2 separate regions of the Homo sapiens genome follow, and region 2 is linked to region 1. Evidence: fine-mapped expression QTL. Tissue or cell type: whole blood. Region 1 holds a variant in brackets; the other region holds the start of a gene. All regions are shown on one strand. Distances are from middle to middle.

Region 1 (8,060 bases):
CCAGGGGCCCATTGGCTGGGCAAGTGGGGCAGGAGGTGGGCAGGACTGGGGCAGGCTAGGGAAAGGTCATTTATGGCTGATTAAATCTTTCTCTCCTGTCTCAATCTCTTGATTACCTTTCCTCTTGCTTCCCCTACTTCATTTTTGGTGGGGAGTGGGGAGGGAAGAAGTCCCTACTTTTTATTTATATATATTTAAATTTGTATTATCTTAAGAGTTATTGTTTTTTCCCCTTTATTTCTCCCACCTGTTCTTTCTCTCTTCTTCTTTCTTTCCTCTCCTTCTCCTCTCCTCTCCTCCCCTCTCCTTTTTCTTTTCTTTTCTTTTTCCCTTTCCTTTCCTTTCCTTTTCTCTTCTCTTTTCTCTCTCTCTTTCTTTCTGTACCTCTCTTTCCTTTTTCTTTTTTTTTCTTTTTTGAGACAGAGTTTCACTCTCTCGCCTAGGCTGGAGTGCAGCAGCATGATCTTGACTTACTGCAATCTCTGCCTGCCGAGTTCAAGCAATTCTCCTGCCTCAGCCTCCCTAGTAGCTGGGATTACAGGCATGCACTATCACGCCTGGCTAATTTTTGTATTTTTGGTAGGGACGAGGTTTCACCATGTTGTCCAGGCTGGTCTCGAACTTCTGGCCTCAAGTTCCGCCTGTCTTGGCCTCCAAAAGCATGAGCCACTGCGCCTAGCCTTTTCTTTTTTTGAGACAAGGTCTCACTCTGTCACCCAGGCTGGAGTGAGTGCAGTGGTGTGATCATGGCTCACTGCAGCCTCAACCTCCTGGGCTCAAGCAATCCCCCCACCTCCACCTCCTAAGTAGCTGGGACCACAGGCACGTGCTACTACGCCTGGCTAATTTTTAATTTTTTTTTTTTTTTTTGAGACGGAGTCTTGCTCTGTCACCCAAGCTGGAGTGCAGTGGCACGATCTCGGCTCACTGCAACCTCCACTTCCCAGGTTCAAGTGATTCTCCTGCCTCAGCCTCCCAAATAGCTGGGACTACTGGCGTGCGCCACCATACCCAGTTAATTTTTGTATTTTTAGTAGAGATGGGGTTTCACCATGTTGACCAGGCTGGTCTTGAACTCCTGATCTAAGGTGATCTGCCCGCCTCGGCCTCCCAAAGTGCTGGGATTACAGGCATAAGCCACTGTGCCTGGCTGCGCCTGGCTAATTTTTAAATCTTTGTAGAGATGGGGTTTTGCCATGTTTTCCAGGCTGGTCTTGAACTCCTGGACTCAAGCGATCTTCCTGCCTCAGCCTCCCAAAGTGCAGGATGACAAGCGTGAGCCACCTTGCCTGGCCATATTATTAAATTATCATGAGTTTAAGTTTAAGTAGCCACAAGTGGGCTGGGTGCGGTGGCTCATGCCTGTAATCCCAGCATTTTGAGAGGCCAAGGTGGGCGGGTTGCCTGAGGCCAGGAGTTCAAGACCAGCCTGGCCAACATGGTGAAACCCCATCTCTACTAAAAATACAAAAAAATTAGCTGGGCGTAATGGCGTGTGCCTGTAGTCCCAGCTACTTGGGAGGCTGAGGCAGAAGAATCGCTTGAACCTGGGAGGCGGAGATTGCAGTGAGCCGAGATCGCACCACTATACCCCAGCCTAGGTGACAGAGCAGCCCTCTGTCTCAAAATAAGATAGCCACAAGTGGTTGGTGGCTGCCACATTAGATGGTGCAGGGTTTTTGTTTTGTTTTGTTTTTTGTTTTTTCGAGGTGGAGTTTTGCTCTCATTGCCTAGGCTGGAGTGCAATGGCATGATCTTGGCTCACCACAACCTCCTCTTCCTGGGTTCAAGCGATTCTCCTGCCTCAGCCTCCCGAGTAGCTGGGATTACAGGCATGCACCACCATGCCTGGCTAATTTTGTATTTTTAGTAGAGACAGGGTTTCTCCATGTTGATCAGGCTGGTCTTGAACTCCCGACCTCAGGCGACCCACCCACCTCGGCCTCCCAGAGTGCTGGGATTACAGGTGTGAGCCACCATGCCTGGCTAAGATGATGCAGTTTTATCCAGGTGGAGATGAAGAAATAGTCAGGGAAAGGTTGAGAGGCTGCATATTGTAGACAGATTGGATTACTGGGTTCACTGGGGAAGATTGGATTAGAAGGAGGAGTGGGGCTGCTTTACTTGTCCCCGACTTCTTGCCCCTGCTCTGCCCACTCCTTCATTGAATACCCTGCTGCCCTGCAGATGTGTTTGCCTGATTTTCACCTCCCTTCCTGTCTCTGTTATCATAGCAGACGTTTTAGTGCTCAGGGAAAGGAGGAGGAAGGAAACTCAGATTGTCAAGGAATTGTGAGTCAGTTTCTCAGCCACTACCCCAGGCCTGGGCTTGGCTAAGTCATTTCACCTCTCTGACCCTAGCTAGTGGGGTGAATAGAGTCCCTACCCTGTTGGAAGTCAGGAAGCCCCTGGAGCTCGCTCTGTGCTAATTATCGGTGACTATTTCTGTGACCCAGCTCTTCAGGGGCAGCCTGTCTGGGGGTTCCAGTGCCCTGTGCAGTATCTCCAAGTGGTAGGTACTCAGTGTATGTATTAGTCCGTTTTCAGGCTGCTAATAAAAACACACCCAAGACTGGGTAATTTATAAAGAAAAAGAGGCTTAATGGACTCACAGTTCCACATGGCTGGGGAAGCCTCACAAACATGGCGGAAGGCAAATGAGGAGCAAAGTCACATCTTACATGGTGGCAGGCAGACAGAGTGCTTGCAGGGGAACTCCCCTTTATAAAACCATCAGATCTCGTGAGACTTATTCAGTATAATGAGAACAGCACGTGAAAGATCCACCCCCATAATTCAATTACCTCCCACTGGCTCCTTCCCACAACATGTGGGAATTATGGGAGCTATAATTCAAGATGAGATTTGAGTGGGGACAGAGACAAACCATGTCAGTGTGTATTGTGGGATGAATGGAGATGGTCATTACAGTCTTCTAAGTGTATGGGTCCATCTCTTACTTGCTAGTGTGTTAAGAAACCTGGCCTCCTTTTTCACATCTTGAGGCACTGAATGGTTTACAAATCCAACTCTAATTTTTTATTATATTTAATACACCAATAGTGCAAGGCCTTTATTGGTAGTACTCTCCTATTACAGATGGAGAGACTGAGGCTCAGAGAGGTGAGGTCTGAACTTGGAGCTCTGGACTCCAAAACCCAGTTTCTTTTCATGGTACCAGGCTGCCAGGAGGAGAAAGGATGGAGCTTAGATTCAAGTCTTGCAACATTCTTCTTAGTCCAGTATTGGCTTATTTTGTTTTATATTTTTTTGAGACGGAGTCTTGCTCTGTTACCCAGGCTGGAGTGCAGTGGCGTGATTTCTGCTCACTGCAACCTCTGCCTCCTGGGTTAAGCGATTGTCCTGCCTCCCCCTCTCGAGTAGCTGGGACTACAGGTGTGTGCCACCGTGTCCGGCTAATTTTTATATTTTTAATAGAGACAGGGTTTTGCCATGTTGGCCAGGCTGGTCTCGAACTCCTGGCCTCAACTGATCCACCCACCTCAGCCTCCCAAAGTGCTGGGGTTACAGGCGTG[AG/A]CCACCATGTGTGGCCGGGCAGGTGATTTTTCTTGTCTTTCGCCTCTTTCCACTTCAGTCCCCCTGGCCATCTTTCCCTTCCTTGAATGTGCCTCCTCCCACCTGGTGGCCTTTGTAGGTATGAGGTCCTTCAGATGATGGCTGACATGACACTTCCTCAGAGAAGCGTTCCAGACCCCAAACACCAGGTCTCTGTCTGTGAAACAGGGACAGTGATACCTGCCTAATCTGCACGCCTTTCCCTTCTCACGAGATATTCTGGGAAGGGGGACTCAACTCTTTGCTCTGTTTGAGGGCAGAGTGCCTTTGAGCTCAGGAGAGAGTGGGTTTGGGTGGCCTTAGCTACCCTAGATACGGAGGACTTGGAGTTAACTGGCACCATCCACAAAGCCTTGCATGCACTGGACCTGAACAAGTTGCTTAGCCCTTGAGGCGGCGCCTCAGCTACCACCTGTCTTTGATGGAGTTATGATAACAGTGCCTGCCCCGTCTGGATGCCTTATGGGTTCAGTGAGCACATAGGTGTAAATAAAGTGCTTTGAGTGGCACCTCAGCATGTAGTTATTCTCTGATTGACCTATAGCAGCCATGCCAGTCTTCAGGGTCCCAGGGCGCCAGGCTTTCTTCTCTTGCCTTGGAGCCTTGGTTTTTCCCTAGGACTGAAGTGTTCTGACCCCTTGGCTGAACTCCCCCTTCTTTAGGAAGCTTTCCCTGGTGTGCCATCTGATGCTGGTGCTTCCTGGAGGGGTACTATCTGATCCTAGCTGGTGAGGCATTCCTGCCAGAGCTGCGGCAGGTGCTTTCCCCGCCTCTCCACCAGCCTGTGAGGTGGATGCCATCCCCACGAGGGCACGCAGGTTCACAGAGACTGGCTCCTGTCCAAGGCCGCGTGGCTGGAAAGAGACAGAACCAGATTCAAACACCAGCAGTTTAACCCTAGAGACCCTCATCCTACCTCCTATGTGGGTAACCACTATACATCCTGCCTCCTCTGAAATCTCCCGTTTTTTTTTATTTTAAAATTTTATGTGAGTATTTACTTATTTATTTGCTGCTGTTGTTATTGTTTTGAGACAGAGTCTTGCTCTGTTTTCACCCAGGCTGGAGTGCAGTGGTGCGATCTTGGCTCACTGCAACCTCTGCCTCCTCGGCTCAAGCGATTCTCGTGCCTCAGTCTCCCGAGTAGCTGGGACTACAGACATGCACCACCATGCCTGGCTAATTTTTGTGTCTTTAGTAGAGATGGGGTTTCGCCATATTGGCCAGGCTGGTCTTGAACTCCTGGCTTCGAGTGAACTGCCTGCCCTGGCCTCCCAAAGTATTGAGATTATAAGCATAAGCCACTGTGCCCGGCCAAAATTTTATTTATTTATTTATTTTTTTGAGATGTAGTCTTGCTCTGTCACCCAGGCTGGAGTGCAGTGGCACAATCTCGGCTCACTGCAAGCTCTGCCTCCCAGGTTGACGCCATTCTCCTGCCTCAGCCTCCCGAGTAGCTGGGACTACAGGCGCCCGCCACCACGCCCGGCTAATTTTTTGTATTTTTAGTAGAGATAGGGTTTCACCTTATTAGCCAGGATGGTCTCGATCTCCCGACCTCATGATCCGCCCGCCTCGGTCTCCCAAAGTGCTGGGATTACAGGCGTGAGCCACCACGCCCAGCCTAATTTTATTTATTAATTTATTTGAGATGGAGTCTCACTCTGTCACCCAGGCTGGAGTGCAGTGGTGCGATCTTGGCTCACTGCAACCTCCACCTCCCAGGTTCAAGCGATTCTCCTGCCTCAGCCTCCTGAGTAGCTGGGACTATAGGTGCGTGCCACCACGCCTGGCTAATTTTTGTATTTTTAGTAGAGATGGGGTTTCACCATCGTGATCAGCCTGACAGGCTGGTCATGAACTCCTGACCTTAAGTGATTCACCTGCCTCAGCCTCCCAAATCTGCTGGGATTACAGGCATGAGCCACCGCACCCAGCCATATTATTTCTGTATTTTCATTTGGCTTACCTGTCAACTTGACACTTTTTTGTTTTTTTAGGCTAGTCAGGTGAAGCAATGTGAGTAAGATCACCTGTCTTGATTATAACTTGTGTGTTCAGTGTTTGTCATTCATCCCTCCCTGTCTCTAGCCTTCAGTTCAGGGCATGATTTGGAGCAAATGTTCAGTATCTGTTTAACAAGAACAATCATGAGAAATACTTACTCACTACTTGTGTTTATGAAACATTATGTGCCAGGCACTGGGCTGAGCAATCCACACAGGTCAACTCGGTTAATCCTCATGACAACCCCTGAGATAAGTACTTATACCACCCTCGGTGTACACAGGAGGAAACTGAGGCTCAGGGAGTTTTTCTTTAAAAATTTTTTCTTTTTTTTTTCCTTGAGACAGGTCTTACTTTGTCACCCAGGCTGGAGTGCAGTGGTGTGATCTTGGCTCACTGCAGCCTCTTGGGCTCCAGCGATCCTCCCACCTCAGCCCCTCAAGTAGTTGGGGAGTACAGGTGTGCACCACCATGCCCAGCTAATTTTTTGTAGGGATGGGGTCTTGCCATGTTATCCAGGCTGGTCTTGAACTCCTGGGCTCAAGCGATCCTCCCTCCTTGGCCTCCCAAAGTGCTGGTATTACAAGTGTGAACCACCACACCTGGCCTTAAATTTTATTTATATATTTATTTTTGTAGAGACGAGGTCTCACTATGTTTCCCAGGCTGGCCTCGAACTCCTGGACTCAAGTGATCCTCTTGCCTCAGCCTCCAGAGTAGCTAGAATTACAGGCGTCTGCCACTGCACTTGGCTCAGGGAGTTTAAGTCACATAATCAGGCAGCGGTCTGCTCAGTTAGAGTCCATGCGCTTAGCCATGGTGCCTTCAAGTGACTCCACCAGGGTCACCCCAGTACTTCCTGGGCAGACCAGACCATCCAGAGCGGGCAGGTTGTGCTTTCCTGCATGGTGGGAGAGGACGTGGCATGAAGCTTTGTGTAAATCTGTGCAGCCTCTGCCATTGTAAATCACTGGCCACCGGGACAGACTCCCCCACCCCCTTCCAAAAACTAGAGGAACAGATGGGTGGAGTCGCATCCTTCCTCTGCAGGCATTTGGCCACCCACTCCCATTATGGAGCATTTCCTCAGGACCAGGCACAGCGTGGAGCCCTTTGCATAGCTCACTGAATTGGGGCAGCAACCCTGGGGCTGGGGACTACCATTATCTCCACCAGCCCAGCAAAGAGGGGAGGAGGGTACAGCCGAGACCCAGCTGCAGTATGTGGAGCACACTGGGGTGCCGTGAAGATAGCTGTCCAGCCTCTAGAGGCTGACAGTCCTGCCCTGACACAGTGGTTTGTTCTCAGACTCTGGCCTCCCCTCTTAGTGCCCGTCTGAAGACTTCAGCCTTCGGTCCTCTTCCATCAGCATGCCGTCTCCCCTGTGCCTCAGTCTCCCTCTCTGGAGTATCTGCTGGGGCCACAGTTTGGTTTTATTGTTCTTTGAGACAGGGTATCACTTTGTTGCCCAGGCTGGAGTGCAATGGTGCAGTCATGGCTCACTGCAGCCTTGACCTCCTGGGCTCAAGCCATCCTCTCACCTCAGCCTCCCGCAACTCCAGTATCTGGACTACATGTAAATGCCACCATTCCCAGCTAATTTTTTTTTTTTTTTTTAGATAGAGTCTCACTCTTGTCACCCAGGCTGGAGTGCAATGGTGCCATCTTGGCTCACTGCAACATCCGCCTCCCAGGTTCAAGCCATTCTCCTGCCTCAGCCTCCCAAGTAGCTGGGATTACAGGCACCTACCATCATGCACGGCTGTTTTTTGTATTTTTAGTAGAGACAGGGTTTCACTATGTTGGCCAGGCTGGTCTTGAACTCCTGACCTCAGGTGATCTGCCTGCCTCGGACTCCCAAAGTGCTGGGATTACAGGCGTGAGCCACCACGCCCAGCCTTCCTGGCTAATTTAAAAATTTTTCAGAGACGAGGGTTTTGCCTAGGCTGGACTCACTATGTTGCCTAGGCTGATCTCGAACCACTGGCCTTAAGTGATCCTCCCACCTCAGCCTCCCAAAGTACTGGGATTACAGGCATGAGCCGCTGCACATCGCCACAGTTTGATTTTAGTATCCACTTTAAGGTGCAGTTAGTTCTTCCCAGCTCCTCTTTTCCCTATCTCATACAGTGTAGTCACTTCCCTTTCTCCCACTTCTCACCTTCCTAGATTTTGTTTTTCTCTCTCTTACCAAGTTTTGAGTATGTAATACGTCCCAGATCGGTGCTGAACCCCTGGTGTGAGTTAACTTAGCAACTTTTCACGTGGTGTTCTGCAGCCTTCTTACAGATAAGGAAATTCAGAGAGGTGAAGTGTTTTTGCAGAGAGCCACACAATGAGCTAAGAAATTAGAACCCAGGGCAGTTGAACTCCAGAGCCAGGGAACTTAACAGCCCATTCATGCATTCACTCAGGAATTCCCTCTTGAGTGCCTGCTGTGAAGGCAACCTGGACGCTGTCTCTGCCTTCCTGGGATT
Region 2 (8,060 bases), 26 kb before region 1:
TTTGTTGCCCTGGCTGGTCTTGAACTTTTGGGTTTAAGTAATCCTCCCACCTTGGCCTCCCAAAGTGCTGGGATTACAGGCTTGAGCCACCGTACCCAGCTGGAATCTCATGTTTAATATTCCAGACCTGTCACAAACACTAAGAGGTGTAGCCTCTTAGACTGTACAAGGCTAACGGCAGCCAGAGAGCTCTCACTGGAAGTGAATTAATCTCTAGGATGGCCTAGAGGGATGAGGGGACCCACAGAGCTCAATGATTTGGTGAAAAACTGAGGCTGGAGGCTGATGGGAATTTATGCCCCCATCCCACACATATGTAATAAAGACCCACTTTGTGCCAGGCACTGTTTTAGGCCGTGAGGCACAGTAGTGAAAAAACGAGATCAAATCTCAGCCCTTGTTGTGCCGACACTGATGTGGGAGGATTCAAACTACAAACAAGAAAAATACATGGTATGTTTAAGGCCGGGTGCAGTGGCTCACGCCTATAATCCCAGCACTTTGGGAGGCCAAGGCGGGCAGATCACTTGAGGTCAGGAGTTTGAGACCAGCCTGGGCAACATGGTGAAACTCCGTCTCTACTAAAAGTACAAAAATTAGCTGGGCATGGTGGCAGGTTCCTATAATCCCAGCTACTTGGGAGGCTGAGGTGGGAGAATGGCTTGAACCCAGGAGATGGAGGTTGCAGTGACCTGAGATCGTGCCACTGCACTCCAGCCTTGCTGACTGGGGTTTTGCTATGTCGCCCAGGCTGGTTTCGAACTCCTAGGCTCAAGCAGTCCTCCCTCCTCGGCCTCCCAAAGGGCTGGGATTACAGGCGTGGGCCACCGCACCTGGCCTACAGTATGCTTCATAGAAATATGAAAAGAATGAGAGCAAGGTTGAGATAGAAAGTAACAGGGCATCCCTCCTGAGTAAAACAATCCTGCCCCCTCACGCTCTCGTCTACCCTCCCGTGGGTCTCCCTGCTTCTGTCGTCTGCCAGAAACTGGCTGAGCCAAGTGCACTTGCAGACGCCATCTGTTCTCCCTGGGAGTGGGGCCGGTGCCAGCGCCAGCATCTGGACTCTTGGCAAGGAGCCCTGGAGCCCTGGAGCGAGGGAACTCCGGCCCCACAAAGGCCAGGGAATCCTCCAGTCTGGTGAGACGGAGGGCTTCTGGGAAGGGAGGCCTATACAAGGCTCCATGAAGGAGGTGGAAGCTTGCAAGACGATGATAGTCTTGTAATCAGTCCGATGGAGATGGATGTAAATAATAATATTAATAAACACCATCAAATGTGTTCAGAGTGCTTTCTTTGCCAGGCTTTGGATAAATGTTGGATATCTGTTCTTTTTATTTTTTATTTTTCTATTTCCTAGGCAGCACCTAAACCAAAATAGGTTCAGAGAGGCTCCCAATGTTGGACATTTGTTGTTGCAGCAACTCTAAGTACTCTACATATGTTATCACATAAGAGGCAAGGAGCATTATCCCCATTTTGTAGGTGAAGAAATAGGGGTTCAGAGAGGTGAAGGCATTGTCTAGAGGCCACACACTCAGTGACTTAAAGAGCCTGGAAAGGGGCCAGGAATGGTGGCTCACACCTGTAATCCCAGCACTTTGGGAGGCTGAGGCGGGTGGGTCACCTGAGGTCGGGAGTTCAAGACCAGCCTGACTCATATGGAGAAACCCCATCTCTACCAAAAATACAAAATTAGCCAGGTGTGATGGCGCATTCCTGTAATCCTAACTACTCGGGAGGCTGAGGCAGGAGAATCGCTTGAACCTGGGAGGCGGAGGTTGCGGTGAGCCGAGATCACGCCATTGCCCTCCAGCCTGGGCAACAAGAGTGAAACTCCATCTCAAACAAACAAACAAAGAGCCTGGAAAGGAAACCAGGTCTATGTGGGTCCAAATGCTGACTCATGAACATCACTGTACCACGTGACAATCAGAGCATCACCCCCTACTGGACCCCACTCCTCAGCCTTCTTTCCCTAGAAACTCCTAACCCACCTGCCTCTGCTTCCTCCTCACCCATTGGCTTAGCAAGGGCCACAGGAACACAGCCCGGGGTTACAATATGCTGGGCTTGGTACCAGCTGTTTACTGTGGCCAAGTGAGCATGCAAGTGAGCCCGTTTATTTTCTTTTCTTTTTTTTTTTTTTTTTTTTTTTTTGAGACGGAGTCTTGCTGTTTCCCAGGCTGGAGTGCAGTGGCGCGATCTCGGCTCACTGCAAGCTCCGCCTCCCGGGTCCACGCCATTCTCCTGCCTCAGCCTCCCAAGTAGCTGGGACTACAAGCGCCCGCCACCAAGCCCGGCTAATTTTTTGTATTTTTAGTAGAGACAGGGTTTCACCGTGTCAGCCAGGATGGTCTGGATCTCCTGACCTCGTGATCCGCCCGCCTCGGCCTCCCAAAGTGTTGGGATTACAGGCGTGAGCCACTGCGCCCGGCCCGTGAGCCCGTTTCTTTATCTGCAAAACAGGGATTAAAAACAAGCCAACACCCCTTCAGCACTCCTCCGCAAAAAAACACCCCAAAACAAAATAGGCCAGGCGCGGTGACTCACACCTGTAATCCCACCGCTTTGGGAGGCCGAGGCTGCAGTGAACCCAGGAGTCTGAGGCTGAAGCGAGCAATGATTGCGCCACTGCCTTCCAGCCTGGGCGATCAGAGCAAGACCCCGTCTTTTAAAAAATAATAATAAAAAAAAAATCTGCCGGGCGCGGTGGCTCACGCCTGTAATCCTAACACTTTGGGAGGCTGAGGCGGGCAGATCACCTGAGGTCAGGAGTTCAAGACCAACCTGACCAACACAGCGAAATCTCATCTACTAAAAATACAAAAATTAGCTGGGCGTGGTGGCTTGCCCCTGTAATCCCAGCTACTCGGGAGGCTGAGGCAGGAGAATCGCTTGAACCCGGGAAGCGGAGGTTGCGGTGAGCCGAGATCACTCCACTGCACTCTAGCCTGGGCGACAGAGCAAGACTCCGTCTCAAAAACAAAACAAAACAAACAAAAAAACCAAAGTAAAATAGCAGCGACAACAACAACAACAACAAGAAAAACCCGGAGCTGAGAGGAAGAATGAATGCGATGATGAATGTAAAGCGTTTAACACAGGGCTTGGGTACAGTCTGCCCTCAATGAACCAATGATGTACCCCTAGGCAATTTACCTAACCTCGGCTTGCCAGTTTCCTCCCGCGTGAAACAGGACAATAAACGATTATGCCTCTTAGGGTTGTGCTGAGGAATACATGTGTATGTAAGTTTATTTGCAAAGCACTTAGAACAGGGCGCACGGTCCTTGTTGCTGTTATTATTATTGGCTATTATTGCGCAAAGGGGAAGGGAGGCGGGGCCAAGCCAGGAAGGCCCTGGAGAATCCGGGGTGCCCCCTCCTCCGGCAGAGCTTGGGCCTGGGCTCACGAGGAAGGGGCTGCAGTTCTCCAAGGATTCCCGCCTGCTCCCAGACCCCCGGGAGTCGTAGGAACCCGTTCCTGGACGCTGACGTCGGCTTTCAGGGATCCCTCGCCGGACGCCGCGGAGGGACAGAGCCTGGGAAGCCGTCGCCCCGCCCCGTCCCCGCCCCCGCGCGCAGCGGGCCCGGGGCGCTGAGACCCGCGTAGAGCAAAGCGCAAGGTCCCAGCGCCCCTTGGATCCTCGGTGGCAGGGTCCGGGCAAGTGTCATTGCGAGGGTTCAGGAAGCCCCGGCCTGTGATCGTGAGCGGTGAGTGAGGGACGTAGGTGGGTGGGGGTCACAGTCCCTTCCCTGGGTCCTGGAGTTGGGGATGAGAGGGCAAAGCTTTGGCGAGGAAATCGGCTCAGTCAAGGTTTGGAATGAGCAGGCAGGAGGCTTGGGGACCTTCCAGGGGGATCGTAGGACGAGAAGAAGAATATTCTTTCTGGTTGTGTTGCGTGTGTACGTGTATGTGTGTGCTGGGGTTGAGGGTGTTTATGGGGGCGAGGTGTGCAAAGGATTCTGGAGAGCTGGTGCATGTGTGGGAGTTGTGTGGAGTCATAGGTGTGTGGGTGGAGTAGGGCAGGGGTGCCTGGGCCTGATGAGTGGGGCAGGCATGCCAGAGGTCATGAGAATAGGAGAGAGTGCCGGGGTGCATGTGTGCGTGTGTGCACAGGTGTCTGTGGTTTGTGATGCAGTGGGGAGTAGGGTTGTGCACGGAGTCAATTGGGATAAATGTGTAAGAAGGTTGGGGACCTGAAAGGGGTGTTTTCTGGGAGCTGATGTTTTGGGGCAAATATTCAAGGAGTCCTTTGGGAGATGAATGTGTGGAGGTGGAGGCTGGGCTTGCCTAGATGGGGCTGTGTGGCAGGGGACTTCGGGGGGCAGGTCTAGGGGACAGAGGATGGGGAATGTAGACTAGAGTGCAGTTCCAGGCAGCACTGGGGGTAGGGGATGGGTGTGTGTGTGACTGGGAGGGGTGCCTGGGCCTGGATAGGTGGTCACGCGGTATGAACCTGGGATGGATATTGGGGGTGTTTGTGGGGCAGGTAAGTGTGTAAGGCATGGTGCAACAGGTGCTGCAACTTATTGGGGTAAGTGTGATGGGTATGTGGCTTTTGCCTGAGAGAAATGCCCAGAATTTGGCTGGGTGCGGTGGCTCACGCCTGTAATCCCAGCACTTTGGGAGGCCAAGGCTGGTGGATCCCCTAAGGTCAGGAGTTCGGGACCAGCCTGGTTAACACAGTGAAACCCTATCTTTACTAAAAATACAAAAAAAAAAATTAGCCGGGCATGGTGGTGGGCGCCTGTAATCCCAGCTACTCGGGAGGCTGAGGCAGAATGGTTTGAACCCGGGAGGTGGAGGCTGCAGTGTGCTGAGATCATGCCACTGCACTCTAGCGGATCTGCAGTGGTGGATCTGCCTGGGCAACAGATGGAGACTTTGTCTCAAAAAAAAAAAAAAAAAAGAGAGAGAGAGAGAAATGCCCAAAATTGAATGTCCAGACCCCTGAGTTCTCTTCATAACCTGAGGCCAATCTTTTTTTCTCTCTGGGCCTCAGCTTCTGTATCTGTAAAATGGGTCTGAGGACCACTGCACTAACTAGTCTCTGCCTGAGTCTCTCTAAAGCAAGGGGTCAGAGGTTGAGTGAAGTGAGACTTTTACAACTTGTCTTTTTCTTCCCCCTACCCCTAGGAAACCCCTCCTGGAGTTTCCCCAAAGCCATGGACAGCCCTAGTCTTCGTGAGCTTCAACAGCCTCTGCTGGAGGGCACAGAATGTGAGACCCCTGCCCAGAAGCCTGGCAGGCATGAGCTGGGGTCCCCCTTAAGAGAGATAGCCTTTGCCGAGTCCCTGAGGGGTTTGCAGTTCCTGTCACCGCCTCTTCCCTCCGTGAGCGCTGGCCTGGGGGAACCAAGGCCCCCTGATGTTGAGGTAGGAAACAGCAGGCCTTAGTGGAAGGCACGGGAGGGGGCTGGGGTGAGCCCCACTAAGGCCAGCATCTGGCAGGTTGACAGCTGTGCCGATCTGCCTTAGGCCTGGAGTCTCACTTCCCAGCTGTGTGTGGGCTTCTGAGATTTCCAGTTACGGTTCTTCTTGTTTTATGTCTCTCATCTTTGTTGCCTGGCTTTTGGCTCTGTCTTCCCTCTGATCTCAGACTCCGCTGGTTGGTGTCTTCAGAGTGCATGCACCTCTGGCTTTTGTCCACCCTGCTGTCTCCCTCTTTGTGTGTGTGTGTGAGAGAGAGAGAGAGAGAGAGAGAGAGAGACAGGGTCTCGCTCTGTTGCCCAGGCTGGAGTGCAGTGGAGCGATCATAGTTTACTGCAACCTTGACCTCCCGGGCTTAAGCAATCCTCCCACCTCAGCCTCCTGAGTAGCTGGGACCACAGGCATGTGCCACCATGCCTGGCTAATTTTTTGGTGTTTTTTGTAGAGAAGAGGTTTTGTCATGTTGCCCAGGCTGGTCTCAAACTCCTGAGCTCAAGCAATCTGCCTGTCTTGGCCTCCCAAAGTGCTAGGATTAAAGGTGTGAGCCACCATGCCCAGCCTTCCTTTTTTTTTTTTTTTTTTTTTTTTAAGTTACTGTTGTCACTTTTTATAATTTCTCATTCCAGGCCAGGCACAGTGGCTCACACTGGTAATCCCAGCACTTTGAGAAGGCGAGGCAGGAGGACTGCCTCGCCCAGGAGTTCTAGGCTAGCCTGGGCAACTTAGTGAGACTCCATCTTTATTTTTATTTAATTTTTCATTTTGTCCTCCGAAAATTAGAAAGACCCCATCTTAAAAAAAAAAAAAAAAATTAGCCAGGTGTGATGGCGTGTTCCTGTAGTACCAGCTACTTGGGAGGCTGAGGTGGGAGGATCGCTTGAGCCCAGGCTGCAATGAGCTGTGATCATACCACCTTACTCCAGCCTGGACAACAGAGCAAGACAGACAGAAAGAAAGAAAAAGAGAGGGAGAGGGGGGAGAGAGAGAGAGAGAGAAAGAGAGAGGGAGGGAGGGAGGAAGGAAAGAAAGAAAAGAGAGAGAGAAAGAGAGAAAGAAGGAAGGAAGAAAGAAGGAATGAAGGAAACAAGGAAAGGAAGGAGGGAAGGAAGGAAGGAGAAAGCAGAAAGAAAGGAAGGCAGGCAGGCAACAATCATGATGAACTCTTACGGTTTCTGTTGGTCAGGAATTTGGGACTTAGTTGCATGGTTCTGCCTCTGGATCTTTCTTGAGGTTGCATTCAGCTGGTGGGTGGAACTAGAACAGTCAGGGGCTGGCTGGGCACTTTTCTCTCTCTTCATGGTGTCTTAGGGCTTCCTTTTTTTTTTTTTTTTTTTTTTTGAGATGGAGTTTCACCCTTGTTGCCCAGGCTGGAGTACAATGGTGCAATCTCAGCTCACTGCAACCTCCGCCTCCTGGGTTCAAGCAAATTCCCCTGCCTCAGCCTCCTGAGTAGCTGGATTTACAGGCATGTGTCACCATGCCCAGCTAATTTTGTATTTTTAGTAGAGACAGGGTTTCACTATGTTGGTCAGGTTGGTCTCAAACTCCTGACCTCAGGTGATCCACCCACCTCAGCCTCCCAGAGTGCCAGATTACAGGCGTGAGCCACCGTGCCCAGCCGAGTCTTAGGGCTTCTATGTGGTCTCTCCATGTTTGCTGCCTTGGGATTCCTTACAGCATAACGGCTTCAGGGCAGTCAGGCAGCTTATGTACCTCCAGCCTACAGCATGAATATTGCAGCAAAGCAGAAGCTGCCTCACCTTTTCTGATTTCGCTTTGGAAGTCACGTAACATGACTTCCACCACATTCTATTAATTACAAGTGAGTCATGAGCCTGCTCAAATTCAAGGGGAGGGGACACAGAACTCATCCCTTGATGGGAAGGATATCAAAGTCACATGGTAAGAAAAGCATGTGGGGCCGGGCGCTGTGGCTCATGCCTGTAATCCCAGCACTTTGGGAGGCCAAGACAAGTTAATTGCTTGAGGTCAGGAGTTCAAGACCAGCCTGACCAATGTAGGGAAAGCCCGTCTCTACTAAAAATACAAAAATTAGGCCAGGCGCGGTGGCTCACGCCTGTAATCCCAGCACTTTGGGAGGCTGAGACGGGCGGATCACGAGGTCAGGAGTTCGAGACCAGCCTGGCCAACATGGTGAAACCCAGTTTCTACTAAAGAAAAAATACAAAAATTAGCCAGGTGTAGTGGTGCACACCTGTAATCCCAGCTATTCGGGAGGCTGAGGCAGGAGAATCACTTAAACCTGGGAGGCGGAGGTTGCAGTGAGCCGAGATCACGCCATTGCACTCCAGCCTGGGCAACAGAGTGAAACTCTGTCTCAAAAAAAAAAAAAAAAAAAAAAATTAGCTGGCCGTGGTGGTGGGTGCCTGTAATCCCCGCTTTTGGGAGGCTGAGGCAGGAGAATTGCTTGAACTTGGGAGATGGAGGTTGCAGTGAGCTGAGATTGAGCCACTGCCCTCCAGCCTGGGCAAGACTCTGTCTCAAAAAAAAAAAAAAAAAAAAAAAAAGCTTAAAAATCTAAACTCTAGAGTTTTCAGCAGGCAGGTTTGCCCTAATCATTTAGGCCACTGGAGCATTTTATAATCTCCATCTTTTATTTATTTA

What was found. PIP is the estimated chance that this variant, and not a neighbour inherited with it, causes the effect.
Region 2: it holds the start of TMEM91, and the variant in region 1 is fine-mapped to the expression of TMEM91 in whole blood (TOPMed, PIP above 0.99).

The regions. Positions count from the first base shown.
Region 1 is chr19:41,399,388-41,407,447 of GRCh38, forward strand. All of the region lies in intron 1 of BCKDHA (branched chain keto acid dehydrogenase E1 subunit alpha), which reads left to right. Among named protein-coding and RNA genes, the nearest start is that of BCKDHA, 5.6 kb to the left of the region's middle. RefSeq lists an enhancer at 7,184-8,060. The variant AG/A (reference allele first, on the strand shown) is at 3,537.
Region 2 is chr19:41,373,139-41,381,198 of GRCh38, forward strand. TMEM91 (transmembrane protein 91) reads left to right here and starts at 3,395. Exons shown (of 4, transcript NM_001098821.2): 1 at 3,395-3,716; 2 at 5,143-5,381. The coding sequence starts at 5,172. RefSeq lists silencers at 3,511-3,640, 6,715-6,888.